Linked DNA regions of Homo sapiens: regions 2, 3, 4, 5 and 6 are each reported to be linked to region 1. Evidence: microRNA targets listed by miRTarBase, many of them from high-throughput screens and not tested one by one. Region 1 holds a microRNA gene; each other region holds the end of a gene's coding sequence.
What was found. The annotated mature microRNA hsa-miR-4691-5p reads GUCCUCCAGGCCAUGAGCUGCGG and lies in region 1 at 1,599-1,621, shown strand. An mRNA with a match to its seed (bases 2 to 7 or 8) in the 3' UTR can be bound and repressed. Matches are read on the target gene's strand: a 7mer-m8 pairs with bases 2 to 8, a 7mer-A1 pairs with bases 2 to 7 and ends in A, and an 8mer does both.

Region 2: the mRNA of CFAP20 is a reported target of hsa-miR-4691-5p. Seed matches in the 3' UTR shown: 7mer-m8 at 4,151-4,157.
Region 3: the mRNA of GTF2F2 is a reported target of hsa-miR-4691-5p. Seed matches in the 3' UTR shown: 7mer-m8 at 1,217-1,223.
Region 4: the mRNA of GORASP1 is a reported target of hsa-miR-4691-5p. Seed matches in the 3' UTR shown: 7mer-A1 at 1,104-1,110 and 7mer-m8 at 1,693-1,699.
Region 5: the mRNA of SNW1 is a reported target of hsa-miR-4691-5p. Seed matches in the 3' UTR shown: 7mer-A1 at 3,915-3,921.
Region 6: miRTarBase lists AKAP13 as a target of hsa-miR-4691-5p. Seed matches in the 3' UTR shown: 7mer-A1 at 4,731-4,737.

The regions. Positions count from the first base shown.
Region 1 is chr11:68,032,312-68,036,311 of GRCh38, forward strand. It overlaps MIR4691 (microRNA 4691), which reads left to right and starts at 1,586; the gene lies at 1,586-1,670. NDUFS8 (NADH:ubiquinone oxidoreductase core subunit S8) reads left to right here. Exons shown (of 7, transcript NM_002496.4): 3 at 1-25; 4 at 612-701; 5 at 800-972; 6 at 3,942-4,000. MIR7113 (microRNA 7113) reads left to right here and starts at 553; the gene lies at 553-611.
Region 2 is chr16:58,109,805-58,114,820 of GRCh38, forward strand. It overlaps CFAP20 (cilia and flagella associated protein 20), which reads right to left. Exons shown (of 6, transcript NM_013242.3): 5 at 5,006-5,016; 6 at 3,788-4,226. The coding sequence ends at 4,221. Among named protein-coding and RNA genes, the nearest start is that of CFAP20, 17 kb to the right of the region's middle.
Region 3 is chr13:45,282,593-45,287,608 of GRCh38, forward strand. GTF2F2 (general transcription factor IIF subunit 2) reads left to right here. Exons shown (of 8, transcript NM_004128.3): 8 at 850-2,301. The coding sequence ends at 969. Among named protein-coding and RNA genes, the nearest start is that of SNORA31B, 51 kb to the right of the region's middle.
Region 4 is chr3:39,093,470-39,098,485 of GRCh38, reverse strand. GORASP1 (golgi reassembly stacking protein 1) reads left to right here. Exons shown (of 9, transcript NM_031899.4): 9 at 1-1,887. The coding sequence ends at 250. WDR48 (WD repeat domain 48) reads right to left here. Exons shown (of 19, transcript NM_020839.4): 18 at 4,420-4,612; 19 at 1,822-3,838. The coding sequence ends at 3,743. Among named protein-coding and RNA genes, the nearest start is that of GORASP1, 12 kb to the left of the region's middle.
Region 5 is chr14:77,713,816-77,718,831 of GRCh38, forward strand. It overlaps SNW1 (SNW domain containing 1), which reads right to left. Exons shown (of 14, transcript NM_012245.3): 13 at 4,552-4,715; 14 at 3,784-4,471. The coding sequence ends at 4,273. SLIRP (SRA stem-loop interacting RNA binding protein) reads left to right here. Exons shown (of 4, transcript NM_031210.6): 3 at 1,957-2,064; 4 at 3,681-3,783. The coding sequence ends at 3,746. Among named protein-coding and RNA genes, the nearest start is that of SLIRP, 8.2 kb to the left of the region's middle.
Region 6 is chr15:85,743,927-85,748,942 of GRCh38, forward strand. AKAP13 (A-kinase anchoring protein 13) reads left to right here. Exons shown (of 37, transcript NM_007200.5): 37 at 702-5,016. The coding sequence ends at 751. Among named protein-coding and RNA genes, the nearest start is that of LINC02883, 12 kb to the right of the region's middle.

The DNA of each region.
Region 1 (4,000 bases):
AGCAGTGCAGTGGCAGCCACCTACAGTGAGTACCTGGGTGGCCTCTAGCCTCAGGTGTTCCTGACTGGTCCTGCTGGAGTAGGGGAAGAGACCTGAGTTCCAGTCCTGGCTTTGTCAGGGGCGTTCTTCTCTGAGCCTGTTTCCACTTTTAAAATGATTATGGTGATGGAGACTGACTCTGATTCACAGGGGCAGGGTCCATCATTGCCGAGGTTAGCATGTGTGATCTCAGAGCTCCCTGGGTGTGATGGGGAGGGGGTTGCCAGGTGTGAGCCATGGGTACCTGTGCCTATTGCCAGTCCCTGGTGAAGGCAAAGGCTCAAGCCCCCCACCTACCCCCCTTGATTCCTCTTTCAAGCCCTGTTGGGCAGGGAAGTGCGTCTGGGCTCCAATGGCCACCCAAGCACAGGGAGAGGTAGGCACGGACGGGCTCAGGCCAGAGGCGGCCTCCAGGGTCCTTGCTGAGGCTGGGGAGAGGTGTGGTGAGTGTACAGCCCCTTTGTAGCCCAGCAGTTGCACCTGGAAGTGAGGGCCAGGCTGCTCTCCCTGAGGCTCCAGGGAGACAGTGTGTGAGGCCTCTTGCCATGGCCTCCCTGCCCGCCTCTCTGCAGAGTATGTGAACATGCAGGATCCCGAGATGGACATGAAGTCAGTGACTGACCGGGCAGCCCGCACCCTGCTGTGGACTGAGCTCTTCCGAGGTGCGTCCTGGGCATGAGGGGACAGGGAAGGTGCCGGGTGGGCACGGATGCATGGGGGAGGAGGGTGCCCCTGCCCACCACACCCGTGCTGCCCACAGGCCTGGGCATGACCCTGAGCTACCTGTTCCGGGAACCGGCCACCATCAACTACCCGTTCGAGAAGGGCCCGCTGAGCCCTCGCTTCCGTGGGGAGCATGCGCTGCGCCGGTACCCATCCGGGGAGGAGCGTTGCATTGCCTGCAAGCTCTGCGAGGCCATCTGCCCCGCCCAGGTGAGCCCCTGCCCCAACCGGCCACCACGCCAGCCCCTGCCACTGGGAGAGGGAGGCCAGGCAGCCCTAGGCCCAAACCCTAGCCCCTGCTTGATGTGCGTCCCCAGGAAGTCCCTTTCCCCCTCTGAGCCACTTCCCTCGTGAATGGGAATGATGAGGGCTTGTTACCAGAGCACAGAGTCAGTGAGTTGGCAGAGTGAAGCTTCCAGCCCTGGGCAGGCGCCTGACACACAGAGGTTCCCCCTTGGGGTCTGGCCAAGGGTGTGACCCCTGGGCCTCTGAGCCATGGGGTGACACCTGAGGCCATCCACGCCTCCCTGGATGTAGCCACCGTTTCCGGAGTCCTGCTTGTGTGCCTGTTGCAGCTTCCCTTCCCCAGTGGCTGCTCCCCTGAGGCCCGGCTTTCCGTTCTCTTAGTGGGTCTCGTGCTTACCCGTGGGGGCCAGGCCTGCCAGCACGGGAACAATATGACTCGGTCAGAGCTCTGGTCAGACCCCTGTGTGTGCCTGGCAGGAGCCCCGGCAGCCGCCGCCGCTACTTTCTGTGTGCACAGCAACCCCTCCCAGTGTTCTGTGACTCGGGTGGCTCCTGTCCAGATCCTAGTTTGTCCTCTGGAGCACTCCCAGGTCCTCCAGGCCATGAGCTGCGGCCCTGATGTCTCTACTCCAGCCACGGACTGAGAGTGCATAGGAGTGTCCCCAAACAGCAGTCACGATGGTCACAACCTTGGCTTCCAGACAGTGAGTGCTGTCCACAGACAGACCCGGTGCTGTGCCATGTGTGTGACTCACAGCCTCTCCTGTAATCTCCACAACCCCTCGAGGAGGTCGAGGTTATTGTCTCCATCTTTATAAGCACTAAAGGATGAGCCTGCCAGCCACAGGTCCCACTGTGAGTTGTGGACACTACATTTCTGGGATGGGGGCATATGAGAGTCCTTGCCAAGCACATTTGAAGGTTTTCCCAGCCAGCCCCTCCCCCAGCGGGCTACCCAGGAACTGAGAGTTAGGACGTGCCCTTGAGTTTGGGCTGTGCCCCCACTTGCTGTGTAGCTTTGGGGAGCCCCTCAACCTCTCGGAACCTTGTTTTTCTCATCCATCAAATGGAGAGAAGTAGATTTAAGGCACAGGATTGCACCCAACAGTGTAGGCATTCTTGGCGATGTTGCAGGTTCGGCTCCAGACCATCGGGGTAAACTGAGTCACACAGCTGTTTTGGTTTTCCAGTGCATTTAAAAGTTAGATTTAGACCGGGCACAGTGGCTCATGCCTGTAATTCCAGCACTTTGAGAAGCCGAGGTGGGCGGATCACTTGAGGTCAAGAGTTCGAGACCAGCCTGGCCAACATAGTGAAACCCCGTCTCTACTAAAAATAACAAAACTTAGCCGGGCACGTTGGCAGGTCCCTGTAATCTCAGCTACTTGCTAGGCTGAGGCACGATAATCACTTGAACCGGGAGGTGGGGGTTGCAGTGAGCCAAAATTGAAAAAAAAAAAAAAAATTAGGGCCGGTTGCGGTGGCTCACGCCTGTAATCCCAGCACTTTGGGAGGCCAAGGTGGGCGGATCACAAGGTCAGGAATTCAAGACCAGCCTGGCCAACATGTTGAAACCCCGTCTCTAGTAAAAATACAAAAATTAGCCGGGTGTGGGGTTGCACACCTGTAGTCCCAGCTACTCAAGAGGCTGAGGCAGGAGAATTGCTTGAACCTGGGAGGCGGAGGTTGCAGTGAACTATGATTGCACCACCATACTCCATCCTGGGCCACAGAGCAAGACTTCGTCTCAAAAAAAAAAAAAGGATTTACACTGTACTGTAGGCTGCGAAGTGTCTAAAACACAATGTATATACCTTAATTAAAAATACTTTAGGGGCCAGGCACAGTGGCTCACACCTGTAGTCCAAGTGCTTTGGGAGGTCAAGGTGAGGGGATTACTTGAGCCCAGGAGTTTGAGACCAGCCTGGGCAACATGGCAAAACCCCGACTCTACAACAACAACAAAAAATACAAAAAATTAGCCCCTGTAGGCCCAGTTACTTGGGAGGTTGAGGTGGGAGGATCGCTTGAGCCTGGGAGGTTGAGGCTGCAGTGAGCTATGAGCTGCACCACTGTACTCCAGCCTGGGTGACAGGGCAAGACTCTGTCTCAAAAAACAAAAACAACAACAAAAACTTTATTCCTAAAAAGTGCTGACCCAGAGATAAGAAGCAAGCACATGGTTGGTAAAATGACATCAGTGAGCTTGCTTTATGCAGGGTTGCCCCAAACCTTCAATTTGTAAAACTCAAAATATCTGGAAAGCTTGGTGAGGCGAGGCGGGACTGTAACTCAGCACTCACCGCAGGGTGAGACCCTTAGGGCAGCGGGTGCTACACTGAACAAAGCGGTGAACAGCCCCCTCGTGAGAGGGGGTTCTTGGCAGATGACGCCAGCAGCTGACAAACAGGCAAGGCAGGCCGGGCACGGTGGCTCACGCTTGTAATCCCAGCACTTTGGGAGTCCAAGGTAAGCGGATCACAAGGTCAAGAGATCGAGACCATCCTGGTCTACATGGTGAAACCCCATCTCTACTAAAAAATACAAAAATTAGCTGGGCGTGGTGATGCACACTTGTAGTCCCAGCTACTCAGGGGGCTGAGGCAGGAGAATCACTTGAACCGGGAAGGCCGAGGTTGCAGTGAGCCGAGATTGTGCTGCTGCACTCCAGCCTGGCGACAGAGCGAGACTCTATCTCAAAAAAAAAAAAAAAAAAAAAAAAACCAGCAAGGCAGGGACGCCAGCAGGGCACGTGCTGAGGAGACAGGCGCGAGCACCAGAGGTGCAGGGCGGCCTCTTAGCCGGAGTCCAGGAGGCCTTTGAGGGGAGAGGGCTTCTGGCAGACCCCAGGGGTGGGGATGAGCAGTGACAGGGGCCCTGGGGGCTGGGATGTGACAGGGCAGCGTGGCAGTGTCTGGTGGCCCCTCCCGCAGGCCATCACCATCGAGGCTGAGCCAAGAGCTGATGGCAGCCGCCGGACCACCCGCTATGA
Region 2 (5,016 bases), not on the chromosome of region 1:
TCAAACTCCTGATCTCAAGTGATCCACCTGCCTCGAACTCCCAAAGTGCTGGGATTACAGGCGTGCCCAGCCCTTCATATTCTTTGAACCATGAGCTCATGAATGTACCATGAGCATGTATTACTTTTATGATTCCCTGGTTAAACACAAATGAGATTTTTACTGTCAGCCTCAGACCCTTGTGTTCAACTAATATGTGACCACATAGTGACTGGGCAGGCCAGCCCTCACTGCTGGGCAGAGCTGACTCCAGTGCTTGATGCAAGGGGATGCCAACACAAAAGAGGACAGGGATGGCATATGGGTCTCCTCAGGAGCATGGGGTCCTCGTTCCACCCCGTTGTTTCTAGAGGGGCTAGCCCATCCCTCTCTGGGCTTCAGTGTCCTGATCAGTAAAATGAGGGGATGAGGATGCAGACAAGAGCTGCAAGATCTTTTTCAGTGAATTTCCTGACACTTAGGGCTTCTGGGTGAAGCCACTGAGGGGCTAGGGACATCGGTTTGGGGTTGTTCTCTGGGATTCTTGCAACCTTCAGAAATGCCCCAGGAGCTGACTGGTGTGGCGCCGGCCAGTCTTCTAGCCTGGCTATAGAGGAAGCAATCAACGGGCCAGGGGCAATTAAGGGCCAGAGTAAATCTACTCTCCCCCAGAATCAGCCCTGTTGGGAACGGCTGTGTGCTATTCCAAGTTCATGCCAATTAACTAACACTCTCTCATTTAGAGGGCAATTCCTTCTAAAACACACTGTGACTTCCAAGGAGCTGGATAATGCAATTCTGCCTGCTCCAATTACCGTGATCCGAGATCACCCAGGCCCAAACTCCATGAGGGCGCCTCAGCCCAGCAGCCTGTCATTCCCTCTTCCCTCAGCCTCACTGGAGGTTGTCGTCTTCCTGGGGAGCTGGAAAGCTGCAGGCAAGGGGCTGTGCAGTCATGACACCACTATTCACCCTGGCCTGGGGCCAGCTCAGATAATACCTCTCATCACCCCCGGGGCCCCTCGCTTCCTTCTTCCTCTGGGATGGGTATGTGAGGCATCTGGGAAGTCACCACCTACCACCCCAAAGGGTGGTGAGGTAATCCCCAGACACGGTCTAACAAGTGCCTGGGGTGAAAGAGGCTCTGTGTGGAGGAGAGTGCCTCCCTGTGTTGCTCTGAACCCCCAGGAGCACTTCACTGATATCCTGGCACCCAGAAGAGATGAGAAGTTAACGCGGTTTTCTTGTCATCACAAAAGCATCTTTCATGCCATAATCGAGTCTGGATTGGAGGGAAGATTTCACTAGACAGTGGCCAGAGGCTAGACACTCTGTTGGTTATTGCCCACCCCTCCACCCACTCAGCCATTTGAGGATTCCTATTGTAAGCAAGAAAGTGAAGGAGACAGGCACACTGCCTAAGAGGGGGATGCTGACATGCTAAGCACAGGGAAGCAGGACGACGTTCAGTTTTGACCAGAGTTAGCCCTGCAAGAGCAGGCTCTGTCACCTGGGCTGAGGGGGTGTGTTCTGTGATGCTGATGACTAGGGACTCAAAGGAGAGGGGCAGCATCCTCCAGAAGGTGGCTCCAGGCTGGTCACCAGCAGAAGGAAAAAGGGGAAAGTTGTCTTAACTGCGCCCACCTGAGTTTCAGGCACTTGACAACTGTCTCATCAGGTAGCTGTGGAGCACCCTCCCCTCCACTTCTCCACCTCCTGTAGCCCCTGCCTCCTCAGAGACTTGGCCATGCTTCCCCACAGCATACTCTGGAGGATACGGATGTGGGGAAAGCGTGCTTCCTGCCATTTAACTTCTCAGAAGGCAGCAATGGTAATGACAAATCCCAGAACTTAATGTTTTTACCTCTAACCAAAGTCAAAATGGCAGGTGCCCACAGTTCCAGTCTGTGCAATGACAGCAAACCCCGGGGAGTGACTGGGGAGGGCACAGAATCTGGAATAGCCTTTTGCTCTTGCATTAACTTTGAAATTTTTATTACAAAAATGTCTTTCCAAAAAAAATTTTTTTTTTGAGATAGAGTCTTGCTGTTACCCAGGCTGGAGTACAGTGGCACTATCTCAGCTCACTGCAACCTCTGCCTCCCAGGTTCAAGCAATTCTCCTGCCTCAGCCTCCCAAGCAGCTGGGATTACAGAAGCGCGCCACCACACCCAGCTAATTTTTTATATTTGGTAGAGATGGGGTTTCACCATGTTGGCCAGGCTGGTCTCAAACTCCTGACCTCAAGTGATCTGCCTGCCTTGGCCTCCCAAAGTGTTGGGATTACAGGCGTGAGCCACCACGCCTGGCCAAAAACATTGTTTTTTTTAATAGTAGAAGAGAGTATACAAGTGATTTAAAAAAACACAACAAAATCATTCTGCCCAGGTAATCACTGTATTAGTTGTGTGTCCTTCAAGATCATATAGGACACCACCTAATAGGGGGATGCTGATAAGTGCTTTTCTCTGCCCTCAAATTGCTTTCCCCTCAGAAATGTTGCATGTGGTAGAGTTGTATCATATACAGTGCTTAACTTTTGCAAATTCATCTGTGCCTAACCAAAAAAAAAAGAAAAGAGAAAAAGAAAAAAGCAGGCAATAGTGCCAGTGTCATTCCACTCAACAGGCATCTGCCCAGAATAAGCACAGTGGGAAAAGTGGTGTAAGGTTCCAGTTCCCTCATGCGATTCCAGCGTTTAAAGAAACATTTTTCTGGCCGGGCGCAGTGGCTCACGCCTGTAATCCCAGCACTTTGGGAGGCCGAGGCGGGCGGATCATGAGGTCAGGAGATCAAGACCATCCTGGTTAACACCGTGAAACTCCGTCTCTACTAAAAATAGAAAAAAATTAGCTGGGCGTGGTGGCGGGCGCCTGTAATCCCAGCTACTCAGGAGGCTGAGGCAGGAGAATGGTGTGAACCCAGAAGGAGGAGCTTGCAGTGAGCTGCGATGTTGCCACTGCACTCCAGCCTGGGCGACAGAGTGAGACTCCGTTTCAAAAAAAGAAACATTTTTCTTTAAGTCCCTACATTCAAGGCCAGTAGTACTTCAGCGGGAACTCAAATAGAGAAATGGTGATCTGCTCCAATGCTTTAGGTGCAATTTAGACTATGTCATTCTGTCTTAAGCTCAACCTAGGACCCAACCCCTAGCAAGATGATTCCACTGGTCACATACTATTTTTTTTTTCCCATTTAGTCTTCAAAGTTGTTCTGAACCAGTTTATACAGTTGACCCTTGAACAACTCAGAGGTTAGAGGCACCGACCCCCTTATGCAAAAATCTATGTATAACTTTTGACTCTCCCAAAGCTTAACTACTATAGCCTTCTGTTGACTAGAACCCTTACTGATAATATAAACAGCCATTCAACACATATTTTGTATGAATTACATACTGTATTTTGTATTCTCACAATAGGGTAGGCTACAGAAAACGTTATTAAGAAAATCATAAAGAAGAGAAAATATATTTACTATTCATTAAGTGGATCATCATAAAGGTCTTCATCATTGTTGTCTTCACATTGATGAGGAGGGGAAGAGGAGGAGGTGGAGGGAGAGGAGGAGGGACTGGTTTGTTGTCTCAGGGGTGGCAGAGGTGGAAGAAAATCCTCATATAAATGGACCCGCACAGTTCAAACCTGTGTTGTTCAAGGGTCAGCTGCATAATATGTCTTGTTCTTTAGATACTTAATACAAGACATTTCACAGCATGAAATGTATAAGATGTTCAATGGAAATAGTTCTCTTTTCATATCACAAAGGAAACAAACATCACCATGAAAAAAGACAAACTAGGAACAAATTTACAAACCAGGAATATATCACTTTATTCATTTCCAGATTATGAGTATGACACAGCATATACATATATTTAGATAATATATAAAACATAGAATAAACCGCAGGAAGAAATATTGGTCTGGAATTCCTTATGGGCCATCTTTAATTCTGTAAGTTCATGGTAAAGGTATCTCCCCCCACACTGGGGCAGGCGGCGGAATAAGCTCCAGCGTTCATGCGCCACTCACAGGACTGCTTACCCCCACTGCACTTACAATGCAGTCACAGAGTTACGGCATGTTCACCGGTGTCCATGACAAGCAACACCAAGTATAAATAACAGAACTACAGCAGAGCAAACTAAGATAAATATGTTTTTGCATCGTCCTCCACATAGTTTCCTTTTAAAAAGAAGAGTCACATCCAGGGGTCTATCCCTCGAGTCACAATTCCAGTTATTGCTGAAGGGAAAAAACAGAGAAGTGGCATCAGTTTAAGTTACTAGAAAATAGATGGTCAGTGTCACAGGCCCCCTGCCTCTGGTGACACTTGAGTGGACAGTGACTGTGGAGAATGGACACACATCTGCAGCACACAGGCAGGGAAGCACCCACCCTTGTGTTAGCAGGGACCTATCAGCTGATAATACTTTTGGGCTGATTAAGAGTTAAGATGGGGCTGGGCACGGTGGCTCACGCCTGTAATCCCAGCAGTTTGGGAGGCCGAGGCAGGCGGATCACTTGAGGTCAGGAGTTTGAGACCAGCCTGGCCAGCATGGTGAAACCCCGTCTCTATAAAAATTAAAAATTAGTTGGGCATGGTGGCAGGCGCCTGTAATCCCAGCTACTCAGGAGCCTGAGGCACAAGAATCCCTTGAACCTGGAAGGCAGAGGTTGCAGTGAGCTGAGATCGTGCCACTGCACTCTAGCCTGGGCAACAGGGCAAGACTCCATCTCAAAAAAAAAAAAAAGTTAAGATATTTTCTGAAGTTCTGTGAGCCAGTAGTAGGAAGTGCCTCATCCCCTCTCACCGTGGAGAGGGGAAACAGCAGTAACAGAGTATTTCACAGGAGCATTCCTGATTCAGTGCTGGAAGGAGACCTAAGATCTTGCGATATAAAGGCACCCCAAAGTGTCAACACAGAGAGGCTCTGCAGCTGAATTCTTAGACCAGAGCACCTTCCAGGAACACAGCTCCCCCCACTCACTGGTGGACCTTCCTCTGGGGAAGACTGGCTTACCTTTGCCTTGT
Region 3 (5,016 bases), not on the chromosome of region 1:
CTCCTGGGTTCAAGTGATTCTCCTGCCTCAGTCTCTCTAGTAGCTGGGATTACAGGTTCCCACCACCATGCCTGGCTAATTTTTGTATTTTTAGTAGAGACGGGGTTTCACCATGTTGGCCAGGCTGGTCTCGAACTCCTGACCTTAGGTGATCTGCCCACTTCAGCCTCCCAAAGTGTTGGGATTACAGGCGTGAGCCACCAAGCCCGGCCTTATTATCACTTCTTACTCCCTTATCTGTGTTGGCAAGCTTGGCTAAAGTACAAATAGTAGTAAATACAAATAACAACTCTCCTTCTCACATAGGAAAAAATAAGTGGGTGGCCTAAAAACAAATTTGAGAACTCACCTTAGAACTGAGAATTCTGAATACCTGTCATATGCCTGCTTGATAGAATATTCTCAAAAATGTTGCTCATTTTTTTTATATGCTACTGCTCCTGAAACTACTGGTTTCAATCTGTGAACTGAGTCCCATGAGGCCACTGAACTCAAGGGCAGATTACCCTTGGTGTACCGTGTCACACTGAGTGAGGACCAGTAATTTTTTCGTGTATTTCATGTAGTGTTTTTTGTGTTTTTTTTGTTTGTTTGTTTTAGCTTTTAAGTTGTTGGCATTCAGGACTTTCAACTCCTTTAATGCACATGATCATATATTTAGTGCAGTTACCATGTCGCACATGTAGAATCAAAAGGCAGTTTATTGAACCTCCTTATAGAGAAATCTTGCTGAGCTTTTAGGATCATAATTTTTATGGCTTGCATATGTGCTTTGGCATATCATCTTATTTTAAGTTTTGTCCCCTGCATTTATAATCTCATTTGTTAGGGGTTTTGTTTTTGTTTTAGGTGTACCTGAAGGAAATCTTAAAAGAAATTGGTGTTCAGAATGTAAAAGGGATCCACAAAAACACATGGGAGCTGAAGCCAGAGTACAGACACTATCAAGGAGAAGAAAAGAGTGACTAAGAAGACTCCTAGCCAGCATGCTAGTGAAACGACTAGCAGCGATGCTATGCAAAAGGCGCTGATACTGGAAGGCTTGAACACCGTATGTTAATAGGGGTTAAGTGACAGTACTTTGATTTCTCTCGGTAAATTTTTTAAACCTGTAATTCTTGTAAAGTTTCTTAACTGTTTTTTTGAGGAGAAAGAACAGATTTATTTATAGACTTAACTTGTATTAAACCAGATTATTCACAGTAGGAATAGGGGTTGGAGGATTAAGAGGGTTTTTCTTAAATATTAGCTTTTAATGTGTACAATTAGGAAATTTTTTTAAGTGAGGACTCTCTACCCTTGCCGTATCTAAGGAGCTGAGGTAATACAGATCCAAGGAGAATTGTATAGCAAGAAAAAAACAGTCAACTACAGAAACTCTTAAAAGGAATAAAAACCCAAAGTTCCTTATTTTGAAATTGTCAAAGAACAAAGCGGTGTTTTTCTTTTAAACAGGTGATCACGTTTCGTGTTCATACTCAACGTTAATAAAAGGAGAGAGTTTGTAGTGAAATGGCAGTGTTCATCATTGGCTTATTTTACCGTAGTGATGCTGAGATGAGAAATGTGCAGGATCATGGTCAGTTGATGTTTCTTTTATTTGCTTTTAAGATAATTAGAAATTAAATATCTTTCCAAAATTTGAAGATATGTCTCCCCCAGTCAGATTATAAGCTTCTCAAAACTGGCTTGCCCCCAGAATTTTACTGCTTACCCAGCAGACATGTATTGACCATCACATGGCAAATGATATCAGCAAATCAAAAGATGGGCGTAGGGGTCCAGCCGAGACAGAAAACGTTAGTTTCAATTCCTGGGGCATTAAAATGTTGCTTTTCTCTTTCTCTTTAATTAATTTTTAAATGAAAACAATACATGTATATGTTAGTTTTTTCTAGCACAACACAATATTATATATTAAGCGATCCAAAATCATACTGTCAAGACCATCAAACAAAACAAAGAAGCTTAAGTGAACTAAGCACAGGGAAAAGTTGTTTTTTCACTCGTTCATTTTGTCATCTGCTTCTAGATGCTGCAATCAAGAAGTAGCAAATGCCCAAGTTGCCATAGTGTTTGCAGGAAAAAAAGAGAAAAAATAATAAAAATAAGGAAGGAGCAATGCCAAAAATTGAAGAAAATATTATATAATTAAAGCAAGAAGATATCTATCCATTGAGAAAAACAATTTTTATATTATTTGCTTTTAGCAGCAAAGCATTAGAATTCTGAGATTGTTATAGCACTAAGAAGATTTTTATTCTGTGTACACACTGAAAAATAAAATTCTGAGTAAAGAAAGTGTTCCCATTCCCCACTCCACCTCAGATTTTCTTATGTACAGGCACCAAATGTGGTATGCCCATCACCTTCTAGTTCCTGATGACTGGAAGCTCTGTGTCAGGAAGCCCGTGGATAATGGTCTGATAAATCTATATAGAACTGAGGATTCTGGATACCTGCCATGTGCTTGGTTCATAGCATGTATCTTCCCCAAAACCTTGTTTTTTTATATATTTGGTACTGCCCTGAAACAGACTGTGTCTCCTCTGCTGATGTCTTTTGTTTTGGGGACAGTGCCTGCCATATTGAACGAGGTGGCTGTGCCACAAGAGTTCCCAGGGCAGAGCTGTGTCTTATTTGAAGCTGTGCTTTGGTTTTTTTGTAAACTGGTTTTTTCTGCTTCTTTTAGTTGCCTGTTACCTCAGCACACCTGATTGCATGAGCTTGAGTCTCTTAAACACTTATCTCTTCAGTAGGATACATAATTTAGGTGCTAGACTGATGCTGTTTCTGATTACGTTTTTGTTTGTTTGTTTGTTTGTTTTTGAGACAGAGTCTTGCTCTCTGTTGCCCAGGCTGGAGTGCGGTGGTGGTGTGATCTTGGCTCACTGCCACCTCTGTCTCCCAGGTTCAAGCGATTCTTCTGCCTCAGCCTCCCAAGCAGCTGGGATTACAGGCGCATGCCACCACACCCGGCTAATGTTCGCATTTTTAGTAGAGACGGGGTTTCACCTTGTTGGCCAGGCTGGTCTTGAACTCCTGACCTCAAGTGATCTGCCCACCTCAGCCTCCTAAAGTGCTGGGATTACAGGTGTGAGCCACCGCACCTGGCTTAAATTGCTTTCTTATTTAATGTTAAAATGTGGGTGCTGGCCATGGAGGAGGTTTTCCCTTCCACCCAGGTTCCCTTATTCTTTTATTTCAGGACTCTCTTACTCTGACAAACAGACTTTTGACAAAGATCAATAAGTAGGAATCCTAAACCCTTATAAACTGTGAGAGTGAAAGGAAGACAGATAAAGAAGATGCACACTTCTGGTAAGATGTCACATCATAAGACAGGAAGGCCATATTTTTTTCTTTTTTGAGACAGATTCTCGCTCTGTCGCCCAGGCTGGAGTGCAGTGGTGTGATCTGGGCTCACTGCAAGCTCCGCCTCCTGGGTTCACGCCATTCTCCTGCCTCAGCCTCCGTTGTAACTGGGACTACATGCGCCCGCCACCATACCCAGCTAATTTTTTTGTATTTTTAGTAGAGATGGGGTTTCACCATGTTAGCCAGGATGGTCTCAATCTCCTGTCCTCATGATCCACCTGCCTCAGCCTCCCAAAGTGCTGGGATTACAGGCAAGCCACTGCTTCCGGCCAGGAAGGCCATATTTAATAAATGATATTGTTAAACTCAACTGATACACTGAGGGGATGCTTTAAGTGACAAAATATAATAAAATTATAGTTGTGGCTGGCCATGGTGGCTCATGCCTGTAATCCCAGCATTTTGGGAGGCTAAGGCAGGCAGATCATGAGGTCAGGAGTTTGAGAAAAGCCTGGCCAACATGATGAAACCCCAACTCTACTAAAAATACAAAAATAAGCCAGGTGCAGTGGCAGGCACCTGTAACCCAGCTACTTGGGAGGCTGAGGCAGGAGAATTGCTTGAACCCAGGAGGCAGAGGTTGCAGTGAGCCGAGATCTCGCCACTACACTCCAGCCTGGGTAACAGAGCAAGACTCCGTCTTGGATGGGCGAGAGGGGAGATATAGTTGCTGGGCATTGGAAAGATTTGAAATTACATGTTACCACAATAACTTCTTTTTTTTTTGAAACGGAGTTTCGCTCTTGTTGCCCAGGATGGAGTGCAATGGCGCAGTCTCGGCTCACCATAACCTCCACCTCCCAGGTTCAAGCGATCCTCCTACCTCAGCCTCCCGAGTAGCTGGGATTACAAACATGCGCCACCACGCCCAGCTAATTTTTTGTATTTTTTAGTAGAGACAGGTTTTCTCCATGTTGGTCAGGCTGGTCTCGAACTCCGGACCTCAGGTGATCTGCCCACCTCAGCCTCCCAAAGTGCTGGGATTACAGGCGTGAGCCACTGCACCCAGCTACCACAGTAACTTCTAAAGTGATAGATCTGCTGGGTGCAGTGGCTCACGCCTGTAATCCCAACACTTTGGGAGGCCAAGGCGGGCAGATCACCTGAGGTCAGGAGTTCAAGACCAGCCTGGCCAACATGGTAAAACCCTGTCTCTACTAAAAATACAGAAATCAGCTGGGCATGGTGGTGCAAGCCTGTAATCCCAGCTACTTGGGAGACTGAGGCAGGAGAATCACCTGAACCTGGGAGGTTTCAGTGAGCCAAGATGGCACCACTGCACTCCAGCCTGGGCGACAGAGCAAGACTCCATCTCCAAAAAAAAATAAAAAATAAAAGTGATAGATCTTTAAAAAGGGAACAGATTGCACTCTTTTATATCATGAGCAGTACTTATGGATTTCAGCACAAGTACAACTGTTTCTAATGGTCTGTGAGCAAATTTCTTTGGAAGCTTATTTTCATCATTGTTGGTACATATCAGTGAAATAATAGTAAACACTTATCAGGCCATATGTGCCTAATAGTATGGTAAGTAGTGTAAAATATTATCTCATTTGATCCTCACAGTGCTGAGTGGTAAGTAATGTCCATTTTATGGAACCATTTCCTGCCTAGCATACCATCGTGAGTACTGGT
Region 4 (5,016 bases), not on the chromosome of region 1:
GGCTACATGGTCTGGGTCAGAGTTTGAGGTCTCCTTCCTGGACAGCCCAGGTGCCCAAGCCCAGGCGGACCACCTGCCTCAGCTGACTCTTCCTGACAGTCTCACCTCTGCAGCCTCACCAGAAGATGGGCTGTCCGCCGAGCTGCTTGAAGCTCAGGCTGAGGAGGAACCAGCAAGCACAGAGGGCCTAGATACTGGGACGGAGGCTGAGGGGCTGGACAGCCAGGCCCAGATCTCTACCACAGAATAACACCCTGGGCTGTGACAAGGCCCATGATGACATTTCATGAGGCCCAGATGTGGGCAGGCAGCCCGGGCTGCACTATGCGGTCAGGATTCCTTGCTGCTTTGGTGGGACATGAGGCCTCAGTGGGTGGTGAGAGGGGGCCATGGGCCTTGTGGGAGGATATCTTTTGGCCGTGTACCCTCAGGTCCAGTGCTTGGTCCTGCTCTGGTCACTGGGGCTTCCCAGGAGGCAGCAGGGTCTGGTCATAATCCAGTGTGAAGATGAGGTGAGGAAGGAAGGGGTTGCTGTCCAGTGTTGGCCTGGTCGCTTTGATTCTTCCTGCACAGCTCAGCCCACCCCATCTGTACTGGAAGGGACCCTGGAGCCCTGGGACCACCCCCTTTCAAGTCCCAAACACTGAGTCCTCTGTCATGTGTCCTTGTCCCTAGGCTACAATGCTACACTTGGCTCAGGCTGATCACCATGCTAGTCACAGGAGGGAGAGAGAGGCAGTGTACTTGCCCCCATCTCCTGGAGGGAGGTGCGTTGGAAATTCTAGGCCCTTCAGCAGAGACCCATTTGTGCCCAGACCACAATATTTCTTCTTCCTCAGGGACTACATGCCACAGACCTGTATCCCCAGTGGCAACTCCTGTTAGCTCCCAAACTTAAACAGTGATCTCTTCTAAATATACAAGGCATCTACCCAGCCCCAATAGTGAATAAAAGTCACAAATTTAAGTTCAACACCCTAAGCAATTTCTCAAAGCCAGTCTACCTGACTAGGTCTATCCACGCACGGTTCCCAACCCCAAGGGGGAATTAGGGGATTAGATTAAGAGTAGGTAAAGACCCTTTTGTTCTTTCCTGTTGTAGGGGAGGAAGCTGTTCTCCCCACCCCAGGTGCCTTTGGAGGTTAAGGCTAGGTTAGGCCCTGCACTCCACCTGGGGACGGCCCCTCATCACCTGAAGTCCTCTGCTGTGTTGACTGGACCCTCAGTTCCCACACTGCTAATTACTATGAAAGCTGCTCTGGCCTCGTCTTCTAGCTTGTGCCTAGTTGAAAGTCTCACCTTTACAGGATCATTTGTAATGCTGGTGTACATGCAGGGAACTCACAAGCTGTGTCAGGTATGCAGGACAAGGAATGTCTGCTCTGGGGGGCACAGGCCAACTATATGGAGGGAGGGTCCCAAATTAGCAAACCCTTCATTTAAAGCAAACCCTTGTCAAGCCTACCAGAGCAGCTGATACGTGTGCATAACAGTGAGGCATTGTGTCCTGGATCGTCTGGGAGCCCAGTGTCAAGTCTGCTGGAATGCAGGAAGTAGAACAGAATCGCCACAGGACTGTTCTGGGGCCAGCTTCCCTTAACTCTGTAGCCTGGCAGTCTGACCCAAAGTTGCCCTCACCCAAAGGTTCTGGCTCTTCCCTCCCTCACTTTTACTTTCCCTTCCCCCATAAGTTGGAGGATAAAATGGGTATCAATGCTAATATTTCCAGGGAGAACATGAAACCAGAGGTTTCTTTCTTTCTCTGTAATCTGCTATGAAAGAAAATAACAAATGAAAATAAATGTGTACTACACTTTGAAATATTTTAACTAAAGCCTTTATTCTATACAACTGTGAAATACAGATTTTTACCCTTTTGGCATTGCAGACTGTCGAATTTTCTGGAAACTGTATTACGGTTTGACTGGAGGGGAAAGAAATACAATCATGCTGGGGGTCAGATCTATGACAGGAGGGGAATGCAGCCACCCAAGGCTTAGCACACAGGGCAAAATGACCCAGCAAAACCCATTTCTTTGCTCAAAGGCCCCTCGGGCAAACACAACTGAGGGCTGGTAAATAATTTTTTTTTTCTTTGCCATTAATTCACAACTATTGCTAAAAAATGTGCACCAAAAGCACACTGTTGTATCCAACAGATAGAAAGGACTTTTAAAAAAAAAGAAGCTGGTTGCTCTCTGAGGAAGGGAGAAAGACCATTTCAACTTATTAGAAATGTGGCCACGTCTTTGCTCACTTCTTCAAAGTGCAGGTGGCAATGGCCTGTCCAGTTTCCAAAAGAAGCTGACTAGCAGTGAGGGAACCCTGTCTCTGCAGTTGTGCGATCAGAGTATCTTAAATAGTAAGGTATGGCCTTAGGCCTATCAGCTGCCCCCAGCCGAACCTGTGAAGATGTAGAAAAGAAAAAACGTTCCCTGCCTCCCTCCCTAGTCCCTGCTATGGTGGAGGCAGGCCACACACAAGCTAGGGAGGCAACTGGACTGGAATCAACTGCCCTCTGAAGGCACTTGTGCTTCTGGCTTCATACAGGAGGCTTGTCTTACAGTTTTATGGGGGTGGACCACTGATTTACTCTGAATACAAATGACCTTGGGGAGAATCCAAAGTATTTTCTGCCAAAAGTTGAAGTGTTTATCCCCAATAAGTTACACTCTATACAAGATCCAAATGATTCTATGAAAGTGTTAGATTGTTAGAACAGTGAAAAGAAGATCTGGATACAGGTACAACAAAAACCTGCATATAAAACTTTGGAAAAACAAATATGTATACTTCCAGGATATGAATATCAAATTAACTCACTATGATCTCCCTTTATTCTGACACCATAAATTTTAGGTAACATTTGAATGAAACTGAAATTTCATCATGGTCTTAAATTTTGATGGTGTCATGCTGCTCATCCAGAGCAAGAACCTGTGGTCTCAGCTCGCTTTGTGTAAATAAAACTGGACACAGTGGAGGAAGGAGTGAAACTGCTGCACCTCCCTGGGGTTGCCACAAAGCCAGGACATCATGGGAGGTGCAGCATCGCTAGGCATGGGCTGCACAAACTCCGGCCCAACAGTCCAAGTGCTATGATCCAGCACCTGGAATTTCAACAGATCTTCCTACAAGAACACATCTGAGATGCAATATTAACAACAAGCCCAACATTAATCTTTTATTATGAAATGGGCTGGTTCTCAAATTGTGCAACAGCAAATTCCCATTAAAAATAACTGTCTTAAACGGTGAAAACAATTTGATTACTTTATATGACAAACTTGGAAAAAGCCTTCATATCTACTGCATGAATGGAATGTACTGTTTTAGAAAAGCTACAGAGTGTGTGGGCTTAAAGTTGAAACAGAGACAGTTGTGGCCCGACTGAGGTGTCTCTAACAAGTGTTAATGGGTAGATAAGGTCCTTTGAAACAAAAGGAGGAAGCAAAGTCTGCACTGGCCTGTTGTCAGTCTTCTGTACATCTTGAAAGACATAGTCTGCTTGGGGCTCTTCTGCTCTTGCACTCTGCTTCCCTGGGGACAGCTTAATCTACACATGGAGACTGGTTTCTATATTACATCTCGATTAGTCACTTCAATTGAAAGATAATCTCGGTCCATACCAATCAGCCGTTAGAAGTCTTGCTCCCGTTGGGGATCAGTGGGCTTCCTAGGACTACTCTTGGGGCCATAGAGGAAGGTCGTAAATGAATATCCAGGAGCATTAGCCCAGCCTTCACGTGGACTTCTGACGGTAATGGAGGGTGAGGTCTCCACCGCTCTTCCATATGAAGTGTTTCACTGTTCGAAGGTCCATATTTGGATCCAAAACCTGAATAGCCAAAATTAAATTTAAAAATTTCAAAGTCTCTAATATCTAAAACCTTATCATTAACTCAGGGACTCTCATCAGGTGATCCAGCTTGCTCACTCCTCCCCTATGCCTGGTATCCAATTCTTGCTGTCACGGCTTCCATGCATGCGGGAATGAAATTGAGCTTAGTGAGATGTACATCTTTTGTGACTATGCCAGAAACACCAGGCCATCTTTCAGCCATTCCTCTGAGGATACGTTTTGAGTGCATCTTGATTTAAAAAACAGTTCTGCCATTTCTCCGCACACCTTCACTCTAAATCATAAACATGGCACATGCTTTTTGCAAATCAAGAAGACCATGTGTCTTTTTTCTTGTCAGAAAAAAAAGCTACCAGCACATCCACATTTGTCTATGTATCCCTTCTCTGAAAATCTCCCCAGCAGTAAAGAGGAGCTTTAGGGTGGGCTTTAGGTAGGAGAGGCCCAGGGCTCCTTAGAGCCCCTCTAAAAGTAGAAGCCCCCCACCCAAAGGCATGTAACTCTTTATGAGCACCAGCACTGGAAAAATTGGGGCTGTAGTCCTCAAGTCCACTTACCTGGTCCTGGCACAAAAGTTCAATTTTCTCCTCTGCCAACACAGCAATATCTTCTTCTTTTTCCTGTTCTCCTGGTTTTTCATTATTAGAAGAGCTAGTGGTTTGAGACTCATTATCCAAGTTGATAATTTTTTCATAAACATGTTCCATAACTTTTCGGACTTGGAGCATGTCACTAGCAGAGAGTCTATCTCTGTAAAAAAGCAATGGCATATTGTGACATCAGGGAAATCACTAGATATTATTTATTCCATATTATTTTTCTTTGATGCAAACATTTTAAAGATGAAAAATAAACCAATAAATGTTTTTAGTCATTACCTTAATCCATTTTTAGAGCTGCGGAAAGATTTTCTACAGTGTCCTTCTAAGACACAGTTTATGTACAACTAAATGAGATTAATATGTGTTCTTAAAACTTGACATATACAGGCCAGGTGTGGTGGCTCACGCCTATAATCTCAGCACTTTGGGAGGCCAAGGCAGGTGGATCACTTCAGATCAGGAGTTCAAGACCAGCCTGGCTAACCAACATGGTGAAATCCCGTCTCTACTAAAATACAAAAAATTAGCTGGGCATGGTGGTGCACGCCTGTA
Region 5 (5,016 bases), not on the chromosome of region 1:
CAATTTTTTCAAGAGCATTTAAATAAAAAGTTCCTTGCAAAAAAATGAATAGATTTTTATTGGTCCATAAATAAAATAGGACCTGCAAAGAATAGATCTTAGATTTAAATAAAAGGCGGCTTTGATGTTGGTAAAACAAAATAAAATATGACAAAAAAAATATTTTTTTGTTCCATTCATTGTACTCTAGTTGGAAATCCTGGTTCCTTTTTTGAGACAGGTTCTCTCTCTCACTCAGGCTGGAGTGCAGTGGCACAATCAAGTTCACTGCAGGCTTGAACTCCTGGGTTCAAGGGATCCTTCTGCCTCTGCCTCCTGAGTAGCTGGGATTAGTCGTGTGCCACCACACCTGACTAATTTTTTGTACTCTTTGTAGAAATGGGGCTTCACCATATTGCCCAGGCTGGTCTCGAGCTCCCGCACTCAAGCAGTCTACTCACCTCAGCTCCCAAAGTGCTGTGATTACAGGCATGAGCCACCACACCTGGACTGAGTTATTTTTTTTGAGACAGCCTTGCTCTGTCGCCCAGGCTGGAGTGCAGAGGCGTGATCTCAGCTCACTGCAATCGCTGCCTCCTGGGTTCAAGTGATCCCCCTTCCTCAGTCACCCAGATAGCTGGGACTACAGGCATGGGCCACCACACCCAGCTAATTTTTGTATTTTTAGTAGAGATGGAGTTTCACTATGTTGGCCAGGCTGGTCCCAAACTCCTGACCTCAAGCCATCCATCCACCTCAGCCTCCCAAAGTGCTGGGATTGAGCCACTGCACCTGGCCTATGTTTTAATATAAACAAATTTCTTAATGCCTTTGACTGTGGAAGTGGTCACATGACAATAAAGGAATGCTTTAGAAATTGTTGTATCTACAATGAATGGATCATTGGGACATCACCAGAAACTTTCCGTCTTCTAGGTTAATCCTTATAAAGTTATCCTTGAAGTAGAGGAGCAATTGTAAGATTTTGTTTTTTTTGGCAAAGCACAGCATGACTTGAATGAGACTAATGAGGACCAGTTTGTCATCTACAGGGACTAGACATCTTAATATCTGTTTTCTGTCGAAGGGCTGGAGGGGCAGGGTACATCCAAGCACTCTAGAATCTGTTTTCCGTATGCGATGTATAGGTTGAAACTTTTGCACAAGGGAAAATAGCAAAATTGTTTAAATTAACCAGAAGTCTGTAACTAGGTTGAGTAAGGGCTAAATATTATCTTTTCTTGTTTTTCATTAGGAACACGTGATGATAGTCGTGGTGGTGGTGAGGGTGACTGGATTCAGAAATGAGTGCAACAAGGCTTTGAGGCTTAATTTTCTAGTTTCTAGAAACGAAGCTTAGAACAAGAGTACTGATCAAAATTTCCCTTAGCTATTACTGTTAGTATGGTTTGCATCTAGAATGACACAGAAAGCTCATGACCCGTATCTTCTCTAATGGCAGCAAGGAAAACAGGAAGCTTAACAACACAGGGATTTAGCCTTGGGTAATCAGGAAGGGTGTAAAGCAAGGTTACTGACACTTATAAATGTCTGTGATCCGATTTTTGGCTGGGCATGGTGGCTTATGCCTGTAATTTCACTACTTTGGGAGGCCCAGATGGGAAGATTGCTTGAGCCCAGGAGTTTGAGACCGGCCTGGGTAAGATGGGAAGACCCCATCTCTGCAAAAAATATAAAAAATGAGGCAGACATGGTGGTATGTACCTGTGATCCCAGCTACTGAAGAGGCTGAGGTGGGAGGATTGCTTGAACCCAGGAAGTTGAGGCTGCAGTGAGTTGCGTTCATACCACTGCACCCCAGCCTGGGTGACAGAGCAAGACCCTGCCTAAAAATAAAATAAAATTAAATTAAAAAGTCCGATTTTTGGCAGATGAAAAAGTTGGTAGTTTGATTTGGAACTCATGGAAACTTTCTGAAGTTCATGATTAATCTTTTCCTATATTTTGAATTTTTAGGACAAGGAGACTGGCTTTCACAGAGGTTTGGGTTGGGTTCAGTTTTCTTCAGAAGAAGGACTTCGGAATGCACTACAACAGGAAAATCATATTATAGATGGAGTAAAGGTAAATTTATTTCTATGCCAGATACATACATGATATACATGTAGGTACTATTTAATTATGTATCAATTAAATAGATCATAAATGTGGAATGATGGGGACTTGGAGAGATTTGTAACTGAAGCTGCCTTAATGCTTGTTAAGAATGGTGGGGTGGAGGCTGGGCACGGTGGCTCACGCCTGTAATCCCAGCACTTTGGGAGGCCGAGGCGGGCGGATCACAAGGTCAGGAGATCGAGACCATCCTGGCTAACACGGTGAAACCCCGTCTCTACTAAAAATACAAAAAATTAGCCTGGCAAGGTGGCGGGCGCCTGTAGTCCCAGCTACTCGGGAGGCTGAGGCAGGAGAATGGCGTGAACCCCAGGGGGTGGAGCCTGCAGTGAGCCGAGATTGCGCCACTGCACTCCAGCCTGGGCGATAGCGAGACTCCATCTCAAACAAACAAACAAACAAAACAACAACAAAAAAAGAATGGTGCGGTGGTAGGCCAGGCGCAGTGGTTCATGCCTATAATCCCAGCACTTTGGGAGGCCGAGGCGGGGGGGATCACCAGAGGTCAGGAGTTTGAGACCAGCCTGACCAACATGGAGAAACCCCATCTCTACTAAAAATACAAAAAAAATTAGATGGGCGTGGTGGCACATGCCTGTAGTCCCAGCTACTCAGGAGACTGAGGCAGGAGAACCCAAGAGACAGAGGTTGCAGTGAACTAAAATCGCGCCATTGCACTCCAGCCTGGGCAACAAGAGCAAAACTCCATCTCAAAAAAAAAAAAAAAAAAAAAATGGGGGGTGGTAGAGTGCCCAGTTTTAAAAGGTCCAGGAAAGTACAAGATGACCCTTTAATGGGTAGCAAGATATGTAACACAGTGGACATAACAGTCTACTTTTCTTTTTTCTTTTTGAGAGTCTTGCTCTTGTTGCCCAGGCTAGAGTGCAATGGTGCAATCTTGGATCACTGCAACCTCCGCCTCCTGGGTTCAAGCGATTCTCCTGCCTCAACCTCCCGAGTAGCTGGGATTACAGGCATGCGCCACCACGCACTGCTAATTTTTTTTGTATTTTTAGTAGAGATTGGGTTTCATCATGTTGGTCAGGCTGGTCTCAAACTCCTGACCTCAGGCAATCCGCCCACCTCGGCCTCCCAAAGTGCTGGGATTACAGGCGTGAGCCACAGCGCCTGGCCAGCAGTCTGCTTTTCAGGTCAGGCAAGCTGGGGCTGAAATCTTGGCTTACCCACCATGTGATCCTGGGCCAAACTGATTTACTATTTTATTTTAAATTTTAGTTTTAATGAGACAGGGCCTTGCTATGTTGCAGGGTGGTGTTGAACTCCTGGCCTCAAGCAATCCTCTTGCCTCAGCTTGCCAAAATGCTGGCATTACAGGCCTGAGCCACTGCCCCTGGTCTGATTTACAATTTTTAATTGAGGGTTAGGGAGTCATAATACCAACAAAGATGGTAAAAGGAATTTGAGGAGAAAACGAAAGAACAAGGGACAAATAAAAACTGCCTGGGTTATTCATTATTCATACTGACTCCCTAATAAAGTGATTTTCAGTTTGAATGTTTTTGCAGACATTGCCTTTCCTCCCTTACAGTGCTTATTTTTTTAAGGTCCAGGTTCACACTAGAAGGCCAAAACTTCCGCAAACATCTGATGATGAAAAGAAAGATTTTTGAGACTGCAGCCTATTAATAAAGTTAACATAACTGAGAATTTTGTCTAAATGTTTTTATTTGAAACAAATAGTTGCACCAAGCAAGAGGTTACTTTGCCCACTCCAAATTAAAACAGAGCACAATAGGGGCAAAATTTATTTGGCAGGACAGTTCCAGTATGTGAACATCTTCCTCCTCACTGTGGTTGGGGTAACTTTACTCATATGCAGCTGTTCTTACACAAAACATTAACCCCAAACTACTAGTGTCACATAAAAGTAAGTGGTCTTGACTTTGTATGTGGGGCAGCATGTTCTATAAATGCTGAAAGGTGGGAGAAGCACAAACACAACCCACTCTTTAAAAAAAACTAAATAATTCAAAGTAGAATTTTCTATCCCCCCCATTTCTCCAGTAATAAAAAGTAGTGCTGGGATCTGGCACCCAGATTTGGTTTTTATCCTGACCATTTACAAAGTGTTCCCCCATATGACTTGCATCATTAGGGTTATGGGTAAGAGTTCATTCACTTTGGAGAGACCTGTGCCTATTCCTTCCTCCTCTTCTTGCCTTCATGCTCGTGTTCCTTGGGGCGGCTGCTATCTGAGGGTCTTTTAGAGCCACCATGCTGTTTGGCTTCTTCCAAAAACTTGTCCAAACCAAAAGGATCTTCCTCAAACTGCACTGGTCCTTCTCGGCCTCTCTGTCTACGGTCTGAACCAGAAAACTCCTTGTCGGGAACAAATCTAAGGAAAAGGAGAAAAAACTATGAACTACTTTGCTTTCACCAGTGTAAACACTGAAATTGAGTTGTATGGCTTGGCACCTGTTGGTCTTTATTCTGGCTTCTAGGTCATCACCATACATGTCCTTGTCCAGATTTTTACTGGGCCTATAAATACTCTGGGCCATATCTTTACCACCTCTCCAGGCTTGATCATAAACATTATAAATTTCATCTTCTCCACCTGCAAATCCACTGTCCATACCCTGTGGAAAAATGGATGACATTAAATAAAAGTGTAAACATTGTTTATCAAAAGCTGAATCATAACATGTTTACAGTAAACCCTTGCTAATGTACAGCTCACATTTTCAACAATCTGAACTGCAAATTAAAAAGTCTTCATTAAAAAACTGGTAGCACATGAACTTCATAACAACTTTGGATTCTTTTTTTTTTTTTTTTCAGACAGAGTCTCACTCTGTCACCCAGGCTGGAGTGCAGTGGTGTGATCTTGGCTCACTGCAGCCACCGCCTCCCAGTTCCAGTGATCCTCCTGCCTCCGCC
Region 6 (5,016 bases), not on the chromosome of region 1:
CAGATGCTCAAAAGCCAAACTGCCATCCTTTTCACCAGCTCCGCTTGCTAAGAGCACTCATGCAGCGAACATTAAGAACCCACTCTGTGTGGCACGTGTGCAGAAGCAGAGAGCATGGGTTTCATTTTCAAGGCATTATCCGATCGAGGAACTGGAGCTCACCCCTCAATGAAGTAATTCAAGTCCTCCTTGCCTTTCTGGGCCTAGAGTAGTCATTGGTAACAGCTAGCATTTGGTGATTTAACCCTCAAATGACTGTATGAAGTTGGCACTGCTAACCCCAAGAGAAGTGAGGAAACTGAGGCTCACAGAGGCTAACTAATGTGCCAGCGGCCACAGAGCCTGCGGCTGAATTCCACTAAATGCCTCCCTGTTCATGTACCACTTTTTCCCCTGAATCCTTCTCTTTAGGATTGATCTCTCCTTTCTGTGTGGGAGGTTAAAGAAAAAGTACATTTTCCTGGCCTCTTCATAAATTCTAGTGATTATTTAAAAGTTAAAGGGAGCATTAGGCAGTGAAGGATATCACTTAAGAACCTTATTAACCAAATTTGTTCAGAAACCCCGGTGCGCAGAAGAGTTAATTGCCCATAAGCCCCAGTCGCCTGTTTGCATTACAGAAGACTTTGGGATGGGGAGGAAGTTCAATGAAAGGAGCAGTTTTTCTGAATTTTTTTCATTCTTGGTTTTCACATTTCCAGATGGTCCCGCGTCAGAAGTATCAGCAGAGGGTGAAGAGATCTTCTGCTGACCCTCTTCCTCTCTGCTGAGGCAGCTGCCTCCTGATCCTGGCCAGCCCACCTCTCCTGCTGTCCCCGCGTGCACAAGTCTCTTACACTGGACGCCCACTGCTCCTCAGCGTCCAGTCCTCCTGGGCGGCCCCAGGTCCTGGACAATAAGCAACAGATGATATTGAGTGTCGGGTGGGGAAGGAGGCCCAGACTCTGCTTCGGCCATGATTTGTGACTGCCCAGGACTCTCAGGTTGGGCTGGCCCTACTCAGGATTACACTGAAAGTAATGGCCTCGTAAGTACAGGTGATGGTTTTGGACACGTCAGGAATTCCTAAAGGCTGAAAGAGTGTATCCAAGTAAGGTCTGAACCTCCGAATGCCTTTTATTTGGGGGAACACAAAACCAAACAGCAGATGTTTTGGACTTGATCTGTGTACGTACATGGGGACCTGTCTGCATATACACACGGGGAATGCCAGAAGAAGGCCCAGTCTGCACCAGGCGTCTGGTCAACTTAGCACAAGGGCAGTGCCTGGACGGACCCGGAGCCCCCGCATATCAGCAGTTCACCCAGTACTCCTCAGAGACTGGTTTCCCTCTAAACCCATCCCGGGCACATACCACCCGTGTTTTGCATGTATTTCTCATTTCATTTTAGGGATGACAAACATTTGTGAAACCAGTGAGAGAAGGCTTGATGTGTATAAAAGACGTGATGTGCACCACCTCGATCTCGGTGTTTCAGGCACTAAAGCAACAAAACAACCCATAGTATCTCATTCTGTCATCAGATCCAGAAGAAATATCCTGGTTTTCCAGCATGTTTACCCACATGTTTTGGCCATGGATAAAGTGAAGAGGCCTACTCACCATTATCCCTGCAGCGTGACACCTTTTGATTGTCACTGACCACTCAGAAGGGGCCACGGCCTCCTGGCTGTGTTCCTGAGCCCCCGTCGTGCCTCTCCCAGACAGCAGCTGTCTGGCCCTTGCTGGGTGAGGGCACACCACTGCCAGGGGTCAGCCTCGCACCCAGGCCAGGCAGAAGCTGTGCTCTGAAGCTAGGACAGCTGGCTGAGAAGTGGGTTCAGGCGAAGGGTGAAGCCATGTGTAGCAGTTCCTGCCAGTGCAGATCTGGAGAGGAGCTGGCCCGGAAGGCGTGGTTGTGAAAGCGCCCTTCTTATGTTAGGAGGCCTTGGCAAAATTGGATTTCTTCAAAAATACATGTAAAGGTCTGTTGTTGAATTGTACTCTGCCCCTGGAAGCAGATACAGATGGCTGCCTGCTGCTCGGCTTTGCTTTTGCTTTTCCCACCGTGTTTTCATCTTTGTTCACTTGAGGCTTTCCCCAGCTGGTGTGTGCAGGACAGTTCATGGTAATGTTGCCCTCTGAGGCCCCGTACACCAGAAGGGAGGCCCTGGAAAATTTTGTGCTTCCAACGTGGCCTTCAATTCTTGCTTTTTTGCCCCTCGGAAGCATGGGGCTTTTGAGCACACTTAAAAAAAGAAAAATCTGTAACTTGGTGCTTATTGATGAATTGCAAGCTGGCCTTGCAGATGGAGATATTTATCTTTCAGTTTATTTGAAAGAGGTCTGGTTTAAAATTTGTAGCCTACATTTGTTTTATTTATTGTATTTGTGTGTTTGTGTTTGTTTTTTTTTAAGGGTGAGCCAGGTCTAGCCCAACAGTCTAAACTATCCAGTCAATACCGAGTGAAGTGGCAGCCAGCACTGTTCACTCTGTGTCTTTTGAAGTGCCTTGAAGGCCCAGATGAAATTTTAAAGGGAGGGGGTCCATGTCCTTCCCTCCCCCACCCCGCCTCATTCTTTAATCAAAGGATGTCTTCTCCCTTGTTTGAGAATGAAGAAACTCGCCACCTCTGACCTACCTTTGCCTTTTTCTGTCATGGAGAATACTCACCCTTCAGAAACAGACCAAAGGCCAAAACCTGCTGATTTTTCTATTGAAAATATGTCCCCTTGCAAAGACCCTAAACAAAAAGTTAAGTTTCTTTCTTTCACCTATTTGTACAACTCCAAGTTACAGCTGAATCTGTCGTGACTTTCCTGAGATCTACCCGGGGCTTGGCTGTCTGTTCTGGGCACTGGCTCCGAGTTCCCCTCCTGGGATTTGCAGGAGGGCAGTACTGAACCTGCATTCTTCTCCTTGTAAATGTAGGCCGGGTGCCCCTGTTCTCCGGGTTTGGAACAATACGAGGTTGGTGCTGATGGGATTTACTTGCGTACGTGCTCTTCACAAAAACACCGTGGATGCTGAAGTTAGAGCACGTCGCCACAGAGCTTGACATCAATGTTAGAGGGTCTCTTACTCCCCGCCCAGCTGTGATGTTTCATCTGCTTTGGTTGTTTTGGTGGTCTTTTTTAAAAATAGAGATTTCACATCTGCCCAGACCCCACTCAAAACGATTTGGTCAGGTTCTGGTTGGACAAGTTTAAAATCAAAGTAGTGCCCGGAATTCCCTCAAACCACCCAACTTCATCCAGGAATACAGTCTGCAGTGCAGCAACAGAACCGCTTACCAAGAACTGTGCTTACATACCTTTGTCATCTCTCTTCCCCCCTTGGAAGTTGTCCTCAGGGGGATTTGTTCCTGTCCTGGGGATTTACCTGGGATGGTGGCTGCCTGTGCTTTTGCTCATGGCCTTGACAGTGCTCTAGTTGCTGGATCTAATGGCCTGTCTTGGTTTCTATCACATGAGAAGGGGTTGTTTTTTTGGGGTGACTCGGACTGAATTCCCCATACTGTTTCCACGCCGGGACACCATGTTCTCCATCAAGCTAAAGAAATCACGTGCCTGAAACTGTGCTTAAGTTTTGGGGGAAAGATGGAGTTCCTATCCAGAGCCCCCAGATTTCCAGAATCGAGTGAGCTTCCTGGAAGGAGACTGCGTCTTCTCTCAATTCCAGTCATCTCAGTCGTTGTCGTTAGGTGACATGTGCACTTTAAATGCTCTCATCGGTTGGCTTCATTTTCAAGACAATCAAATGTATTGACTGTGTTTTCTTCTTAGAAAATGGAGAGGGTTAAAAACATGCAAACTGCCACTTTCAACCTTTGCCAGTATTCCCTCTACCCCCGTGAGAGCTATCTGGGGGGAAGAATCCTTACCAAGGTTTTTTTGGAAAGGTACGAATCTTAACTTTTTTCCCCTTCTGTGTCTCAGGGTAATACTATTCAGAGTCGCCCCTTTGCTCATTTTCTCCCGTATTTGTTACCTTCCTGAGGCCTCAGTATTAGTCGTGAGCACAAAGTTTTGAGACCTTTGGCGTTGTTTCTTGATGTGGGAGGGGAGGTGTTAGTGCATGCAAGGGTTGAACTAGATAGACCCTGCCTTAGTAGAGGGTGGGACTATAACCTTAGAGGCCAGAACTTGATCCAGAAGTTGCTGTCCACAGAAGTGCTTTCTATTTCATCATTTTTGTTTCTAGGGCTCTTTTTCTGTAGCCAGGTCTTCCCAAGGATTTTAGTATTTGCATTGGAGTTGAGGTTTACTCTAATGATGGTGGCCCAGCTGTGCCCAGAGGACAGCCAGGCAGGCCCTGGGAGGGAGTTTAGAAAGACAGTCCTGGTGAATGGGCTTCAAGTGGTCACAAAGAGGGTGGCTGTGAGGTGACCCCAGACACTGCAGAACGATGTGCACCCTCTGCGTTTTGGATGTCCTTGGAATGTGGGAGCCTAGAAATAACCCTGTGGATGGAATTGGGGCAGCGGCTGCTGGAGATCTGTGTGCCTTGCCTTCCTTCAGCAGGACCGTCTAGGTGCGCAGCCACCTATGGATGCGTCCCAGCCAGCCCCGTCGCTCTCGTCCATCCTCAGAGACAAAGAAGAGGGCAGGGAGTTTGGGCTTGGTTTTGAACTTTCCTTTCAATGTAGCAAAGCATTCCTAGTTAACCAGAGCCTTGGAATCTACTGCCTGCTGGCCAGGCTTTAAAATGAAAAGTGTTTTAATGCTGCCATAAAAGGGAGGCGGGGGGGAGGAAGGGAAAATAAAGGCATCTTTCCAAGTACTCATCTAATTTAATTGTCAAAAGATTGATAGGCCATGAATTACTTCTCCATCTCACTAAGGGTTAAAGGCGTGCAACCCCCCACTGGCTGTGTCCCCTGCCACCGAAGTGAGTGACCTGCCCTACAACCAGGTGGGACCACCTGTGCTGCAGTCCGGAGGGGCTTCTGCAGGAAGCACTCACCCCCCACACCTTCCCCGGCCTGAGCTTCCCCTACCTTTCGTCACCACCTGAGGGCATGAGCACAGGCCA